2 linked regions of the Homo sapiens genome follow. The protein of the gene in region 1 interacts with the protein of each later gene in a biochemical or structural test. Each region holds a gene or a part of one and is shown on either strand. Other genes may lie near its edges. The genes, in order: TAP1 and THOC5.

The links.
Region 2: the proteins of TAP1 (region 1) and THOC5 form a complex in vitro, tested with the Homo sapiens proteins (one study listed by IntAct).

The regions. Positions count from the first base shown.
Region 1 is NC_000006.12:32,850,674-32,855,212, reverse strand, and holds the start of TAP1 (antigen peptide transporter 1), read left to right. Parts: upstream 1-1,508; 5' UTR 1,509-1,576; coding exon 1,577-2,174; intron 2,175-2,451; exon of another isoform or gene 2,452-2,618; intron 2,619-2,710; coding exon 2,711-2,825; intron 2,826-2,973; coding exon 2,974-3,104; intron 3,105-4,063; coding exon 4,064-4,269; intron 4,270-4,539. Other genes in the region: PSMB9 (proteasome subunit beta type-9 precursor), read right to left, coding at 924-983. UniProt on the Homo sapiens protein: ABC transporter associated with antigen processing. In complex with TAP2 mediates unidirectional translocation of peptide antigens from cytosol to endoplasmic reticulum (ER) for loading onto MHC class I (MHCI) molecules.
Region 2 is NC_000022.11:29,519,258-29,522,757, reverse strand, and holds part of THOC5 (THO complex subunit 5), read left to right. Parts: intron 1-1,658; coding exon 1,659-1,760; intron 1,761-2,653; coding exon 2,654-2,750; intron 2,751-3,500. UniProt on the Homo sapiens protein: Component of the THO subcomplex of the TREX complex which is thought to couple mRNA transcription, processing and nuclear export, and which specifically associates with spliced mRNA and not with unspliced pre-mRNA.

The sequences.
Region 1 (4,539 bases):
ACTTGCCACTGCTCATTTGGCAGTGAGGGGAGATTTCCCAAATTATAAGTGGTTTCACTGTGTCTTTCTTACCAGGCCGTAAGTTACTCTGGCCCCAAAGGACGCTCCTCTGAGTATGCTTTCCGACGGACCGACTTATCATGAATAGAGGGTCAAAGAACAGGGTTAACTTCAAGTTAGAGGCTATTCCTCTCTAACAAAGCCGCCCCCAAGCCACGAGTGGTGGCAGTAGTCCAGAGCAGAAGCCAGCCAGCCAGTCTTGGGGCTGCCATCTGCCCCAGGCGCCCATCCTAAGCAAAGTCCCCCCAGTGGGCACATGGGAGTGGGCAGGGAAGACACAGGGAAGGGAGTAAGGCAGCATCTGGGCCAAGGAGAGGCCTTCCTGGGTCAAGCTAGGGAAGGGCATCACTAGTTAACACAGAACGCCCATTATCAGTGCTTGGGCTAAGAGTTGCCCAGTGGCAAGTTTATCAAAAGTCTGTGTGATGAGTTGGTCCTTCTCAATAAGTGCCTATATTTCCTTCTCCCAAGTGCTGTTCTACTTCACCCAGGGCACCATTTCCTCATCTCTTTGCACCATCCCCAACCCCCTTTCTTGATTTAACCAGCCCCCACTGTCCGGGACCAGAGTGAAAGCGAAAGCGCTTTAGAGTAGCTTCCCGTTGACGCTTCCAGCTAAGAGTCAAAGCACCCGCTTTTTCCACCAGCCTCGCGTGCCTGTTCCCTTCACGGACACTCTAGACGACCCCCCTCAGAAAAGAAATACTCTATGCTCATTGCGGGTTGCAAGCGCTGGCTGCTACAGGCGACCTCCCTGCGCTCCCGTTGGTCTCTGCATTCACTTCTCCGCGCGCGCTTCCAGGGTCCCCTGGCCGCTGCATCTCCTCCACCCCTCTGCCAACCCTCAAGCCCAGACCCATTACCCCGGTGTGGACTTCTCCCGCCCGGGGTAAGTCCCCGGTTGGTGCTCCCGCCCGCAGCATCCCTGCAAGGCACCGCTCTCCTCGCCGCCTGGGGCACTGGTTTCCAACCTGGGACAGCGCACAACGCGCAGCCGACAGCCCCGCCCCTTCGCGGCGCCGCCAGGAGGCGCCTGGGTGCTGCGGGGCTGCTTTGCGCGCGGCGCTAACGTGTGTAGGGCAGATCTGCCCCGAGACAAGTGACGAGGCAGCCCCGCCCTGAGGCTGGGGTGGGAAAACTGGTGCAAGTGGAAAGGCAGGAGGCAGGGAGAGGCGAGAAGGGTGTGCGTGATGGAGAAAATTGGGCACCAGGGCTGCTCCCGAGATTCTCAGATCTGATTTCCACGCTTGCTACCAAAATAGTCTGGGCAGGCCACTTTTGGAAGTAGGCGTTATCTAGTGAGCAGGCGGCCGCTTTCGATTTCGCTTTCCCCTAAATGGCTGAGCTTCTCGCCAGCGCAGGATCAGCCTGTTCCTGGGACTTTCCGAGAGCCCCGCCCTCGTTCCCTCCCCCAGCCGCCAGTAGGGGAGGACTCGGCGGTACCCGGAGCTTCAGGCCCCACCGGGGCGCGGAGAGTCCCAGGCCCGGCCGGGACCGGGACGGCGTCCGAGTGCCAATGGCTAGCTCTAGGTGTCCCGCTCCCCGCGGGTGCCGCTGCCTCCCCGGAGCTTCTCTCGCATGGCTGGGGACAGTACTGCTACTTCTCGCCGACTGGGTGCTGCTCCGGACCGCGCTGCCCCGCATATTCTCCCTGCTGGTGCCCACCGCGCTGCCACTGCTCCGGGTCTGGGCGGTGGGCCTGAGCCGCTGGGCCGTGCTCTGGCTGGGGGCCTGCGGGGTCCTCAGGGCAACGGTTGGCTCCAAGAGCGAAAACGCAGGTGCCCAGGGCTGGCTGGCTGCTTTGAAGCCATTAGCTGCGGCACTGGGCTTGGCCCTGCCGGGACTTGCCTTGTTCCGAGAGCTGATCTCATGGGGAGCCCCCGGGTCCGCGGATAGCACCAGGCTACTGCACTGGGGAAGTCACCCTACCGCCTTCGTTGTCAGTTATGCAGCGGCACTGCCCGCAGCAGCCCTGTGGCACAAACTCGGGAGCCTCTGGGTGCCCGGCGGTCAGGGCGGCTCTGGAAACCCTGTGCGTCGGCTTCTAGGCTGCCTGGGCTCGGAGACGCGCCGCCTCTCGCTGTTCCTGGTCCTGGTGGTCCTCTCCTCTCTTGGTAAGGGGAACGCAGGGCAAGAGGGGAGGACACAAGGGGACTGGGACAGGAATCAAAGGTAATTGTCAGTAAGGTAGAGTAGCGTGGGTTCTGGGAAATGTGGAGCAGGAGAAGGACTCCTAGCGTGGGTCTTGGAACACCACTTCGGTGTAGAAGAAACGGCACTGGACTGGCGGGGGCCAGAGGTTCTGGGCTCCATTGCTGACCGGGTCTTGATTCTTTGGGCCACGCCGGAAGCGGGGAAATCCTTTGCTCTGGGGCCGAAGGGCGGGGCATCCTCATCTCTAACAGGAGGCTTTTCTACTTCATGATCTCCAGCCTTCCTAATAAAATCCTGAAAGTTCTGGTAGAGCAACCACAGGGTAGTGAGTTCCAGGGCAGCCTATTTAGGTTCGGGATTGAGACGTCAGTGTTTCCTTTCTGCTGATGCCCTCCAGGATAATGGTGAGGGGGAGGAGGCGTGGTGGGGCCAGTCTGACTGGAACTGACCTACTTAGACTTAATATTTGTGCGTGACCTCTCTTCTCTTTCTCCAGGGGAGATGGCCATTCCATTCTTTACGGGCCGCCTCACTGACTGGATTCTACAAGATGGCTCAGCCGATACCTTCACTCGAAACTTAACTCTCATGTCCATTCTCACCATAGCCAGGTCTGGGGGCTGAAAATGGGGCACCCTGCAAATGAGGGAGTTGGAAGTTGGGGCTGCTGTCCGAAATGCACTTATATGGGGATACCTGGGACCTTCAGTCTGTTCCCTGAACACACCCTGATCCCCTTTTTTTCCGGGTTCTTTATAGTGCAGTGCTGGAGTTCGTGGGTGACGGGATCTATAACAACACCATGGGCCACGTGCACAGCCACTTGCAGGGAGAGGTGTTTGGGGCTGTCCTGCGCCAGGAGACGGAGTTTTTCCAACAGAACCAGACAGGTTTCTCCTGAAACTCTTTCATTATACGCCATGTACTGTTCATATCCTCATACATCTGCTTTGATCTCCCCCCTCCCCGCTCTCTCTCTCTCACACACACATACACACATTGTTCCTTCTCATTCTTGATATACCCTCTCCCTGTCTCTCTCTCTCTGTCTCTGTCTCTCTCTCTCTCTCTCTCACACACACACACACACAATTGTTTTTCTCATTCTTGATATACCTCAGGAGCAAAATATTGTCCTCCTTACCTTAAGAAAAACCTAGAGTTTTCATCTAGCATTTTCTTATAAATCTATTCCTATGTATCCTTAGATAGAAACCATAGAATTTCAAACCTGGAAATTTTGAGCTCATAGAGACCAACTGCCTCATCTGACAGAGAAGGAAACTGAGGCCAAGACCCTAAATGCTGAAACTGCACAGTTACATATGGCTAGAGACACACTTGGGGTTAGAACCCTGGTCTCTTGAGTGCTCCACAGACTTCGGCATGCTTTCTAGCAGCACTAGAAGCTGTACAGTTACATATGGCTAGAGATAGACCTGGGGTTAGAACCCTAGTCCCAGTGAGTGCTCCACAGACTTTGGCATGCTTCCTAGCAGCACCCTCCTCCTCCATCTCTGTTATGTGACCAGTTTAAGCTCTTCCTGCCTGTGTGTATAGCATGGGACATACAGGTTCTCTAGGGAACAGAAAGCTTTCAGGAAAATGGAAATTCACATGTGCATTAATGACTTTATAATTAAAATGAAGGTCAGGCCTTTCCTCTTTAACACTCATCTTCCCTGCACTGAGATTTGCAGACCTCTGGAGAACCCTAACCTTGTTTCCTGCAGCCTCCTTAGAACCCCATGTTGACACCCCTGACCCTGGCATCCTGGCTCATTGTTAGTTCGTCTCATCACTTGGAACCTGTCTGATTCACCTCACTCTCTTCTCCCCAACCCTGCAGGTAACATCATGTCTCGGGTAACAGAGGACACGTCCACCCTGAGTGATTCTCTGAGTGAGAATCTGAGCTTATTTCTGTGGTACCTGGTGCGAGGCCTATGTCTCTTGGGGATCATGCTCTGGGGATCAGTGTCCCTCACCATGGTCACCCTGATCACCCTGCCTCTGCTTTTCCTTCTGCCCAAGAAGGTGGGAAAATGGTACCAGGTATGTTCATGGAGTTGGCCCGCTCTACACAGACCCTCATCTCCCAGACTTGGCAGACTCAGTTCCTCTCACATTGCTTTCAGTCCAGCTTTCCTGGCACCCTTACTGATTCTCCATCTTCATGGAACACCCTGTCCCTGTGGTCCATGTTCCCAGGTTGCTCAACATTAACCTCCATACTCTCTGGGTCTTCTTTTCTAGCTTCTCCCCACAATCTGTCTTTAAGAATTTGATCCCCAACCCGTTCTGAGTCATTTTCCTCTTCCTCGT
Region 2 (3,500 bases), on another chromosome or scaffold:
GTGCTGGGATTACAGGCGTGAGCCACCACGCCCGGCCACTAAGGTTTTTTTAATCCCTTACTTTTTATCAAAATTTTATAACAAAGATTTGACTGGTTGAGAAGTTTTTTTGTTTTGGTGTTATATTTTTATGACTATAAATAGCCTTTCCTTTTATGTTCATCATTTTTACCAAGTTCAGTTGTCTTAGCCATATGTTGCAGATATAAATTTTGCCAAGAAGGTGATTCCTTCATCAGGTTTTGTCAATTAATAACCTTCATCGTGGGCAGTTTTAGTTCTGTTTTATTTATTTACTAATAGATTGAATCAATCTATTAGTAATAGTCCCTAAACACTTGCTAAAAGACTGAAAAGTTTTATTTTATTTTATTTTATTTTATTTTATTTATTTTTTTGAGACAGAGTCTCGCTCTGTCACCCAGGCTAGAGTGCAGTGGTGCAATCTTGGCTTATTGCCAGCTCCGTCTCCCGGGTTCACACCATTCTCCTGCCTCAGCCTCCCAAGTAGCTGGGACTATAGGCGCCCGCCACCATGCCCAGCTAATTTTTTTTTTTTTTTTGTATTTTTAGCAGAGACGGGGTTTCACCGTGTTAGCCAGGATGGTCTCGATCTCCTGACCTCATGATCCGCCCGTCTCGGCCTCTCAAAGTGCTGGGATTACAGGCGTGAGCCACTGTGCCTGGCCTGAAATGTTTTATTTGTTTGGTAGTCAGTTCTCCATTTGAGGTGGTGAAGGGGGCAAAGACCTTGGGGAACAGGGATACTCAGTGAGACACAGTAGGGAAGAGCTGGAAGCCTCCACTGTCCTAGCATGGAGTTCCTGAAGGCATGCTGGGGCCAAAACGCAGGACCGGCACGTGCTGCCCAAGTTGCTCCTGACGTTATCCATGGAAAGATGAAGGAGAACCCCCTTTGGTTCAGGGAAAGAATGGGCCTTGTCATCCTTTGTGATAAAATTACTACATTACCCTCCCACATTATCTCTTTTTTGCTTGTCACATTTAATGACAAACTGTGCCCGAACCATCCCAGGTGGGTGGCAGTGGCGTCACTATTTCTCTCCGCTTGTAGCTGTGGGTCTCCAGTGTATGTGATTGTATCTTTTTCTGGGAACATACAGGGGGCCTTTTCCTGTGATGAGCATAAGATTTGGTCAAAGTGAGATAGACATAGCACCAAAGCTATACACTTGTTCTCTCTGTAGCAGAAAGGAGTCTGTTCTGCTTTTATGAAAATTGAAATTATTTCTACTGATGGTGTCATGGGACTTTGCTCCCCTGAGGTAAGGCCTTAGGCACCATATAAATCTTGAAGGGATGAGTTTTTTAAAAATTAATGATTAAGAGTACTAGTCTGTTTGATCAGACAATATAAAGCCACCTCTAGCACTTACTAGCAGTGTGATCTTGAATAAGCCATATCTTTTAAAGCCTTGAGTTTTTCCTCTATAAAATGGAAATGATAATCCTCCCTCATAGGGTTGTAAGGATGCAATGACCTCAAGCATATAAACGGTCTGGCCCACAGAAAGCCTTCAATAAATGGTGGCATTGGTCATCAGTGAGACGTGGCATTACCATCCCCAAATGCCCAAGCCTATGTTGAAGAAAGATGTTGGCTGCATTCTCACTGCTTACTGTTTTTCCTTTTCTAGTGACTTGCTGTCTCCTGACTCAGTCCTGAGTTGCTTGTATCCTGGGGATCATGGAAAGAAAACTCCGAATCCAGCCAATCAGTATCAGTTTGATAAAGTTGGGTGAGTCAGCAGTTTCCTCCTCTCCGAGCTCTCTACTTCTGAGTTTCTCTGGTGGCTCAAGCTAAATGCTGGAGACCTGTTAGGGCCAGAGGTGACCCAGAGGATAGGAAAGACCACAGGGTAGAAGGAAATGTTTGTTCTTTCTTGCTTACAAGGCAAAGGGAGATCACAAAAAGGGTGGAAGGATCAAAACTCGGAAACATGCTGGGTGTGGTGGCTCACGCCTGTAATCCCAGCACTTTGGAAGGCCAAAGCAGGTGGATTCCTTGAGCTCAGGAGTTCGATACCAGCCTGGGCAACATGGCAAAACCCTGTCTCTACAAGAAATACAAAAATTAGCCAGGCATGGTGGTGGGCATTTGTAGTCCCAGCTACTGGGGAGGTTGAGGTGGGAGAATTGCATGAGCCCAGGAGGTTGAGGCTGCAGTGAGCCATGGTCATGTCGCTGTACTCCAGCCTGGGGGCAACAGAGCCAGACCCTGTCTCAAAACAAAAACAAAAAGAAAAACAAAAAAAACCCTCTGGAAGCATAATAATACGTGATACAATAAAAATGTTTGACATTTTAATTATCCGAGGATTAATTTTTAAAAGATTTTCTAAATTGGTAGACCAATAAAGACATTAGTACACTGCCTTTGTATTTGATATTTGCTTATAAGTTGAAGGCTGCAAGAAGAAAAGGAAAAAGAGGAAAGTGAATGTGAGAGAGATGAAATTCACAGTAGGGAACTGACAAAGTTGAAGGGCTTTGCCAGCAGCCTGGCTGTGAACATGGCCAAACCTGCAGGACTGGATGGTTTGTGGGGCATGGGAGGGTGGGAGGAGGCTGTATCCTGGGACCACAGCAGAAATGACTTACAGCACAATTTTATTTATCTTCTTTTCTGCAGCATCCTGACTTTGAGCGACTATGTACTTGAGCTAGGTCACCCCTATTTGTGGGTGCAGAAGCTGGGTGGCCTCCACTTCCCCAAAGAGCAGCCCCAGGTCTGTACACTGATCTCATCTAGTTGGCTGAGGAGCTTACCTCTTCTCTTCCTGTATAGACTCTAGAAAGGCCAGGCCAGGTGCGGTGGCTCATGCCTATAATCCTTGTACTTTGGGAGGCTGAGGCAGGTGGATCACCTGAGGTCAGGAGTTTGAGACCAGCCTGGCCAACATGATGAAACCCCATCTCTACTAAAAATACAAAAAATTAGCTGGGTGTGGTGGCACGTTCCTATAATCCCAGCTATTCAGGAGGCTGAGGCAGGAGAATCACTTGAACCAGGGAGGCAGAGGTTGCGGTGAGCTGAGATCATGCCACTGCACTCCAGCCTGGGCAACAAGAGCAAAACTCCGTCTCAAAAAAAAAAAAAAAGGCCTGTCATGGCCTTTGGAGTTTTGAACTGGCAGAATGTGTCCCCTCAGGGCTGTGACCTGTCTTCTATCCACTCAGGACACTAAAATGTCTTAGACTTACAAGAGTTTACGTACCTTTTGCATTTTCTCTGAGCCTAGTAGCCTTTTAGACCCAGGCAACTTGAGTCCTTGCTCTGGGACTCATGTCTGCAGGCTCTGCTGCCCTTGTTCTTGTGTGCAAGTACCAAATATGAGGCATGAGCAGAAATCCAGGGGGCCTGGCCCCTTAGCAGAAGCCTGCCTTTCCTCAGGAGTTGGACACAGCTTCTCAAGAACGCAGCATATTGTGTTGTTTCTGCCAGGACTCAGCGTCTGGCCTGTCATAGCAGATAAACC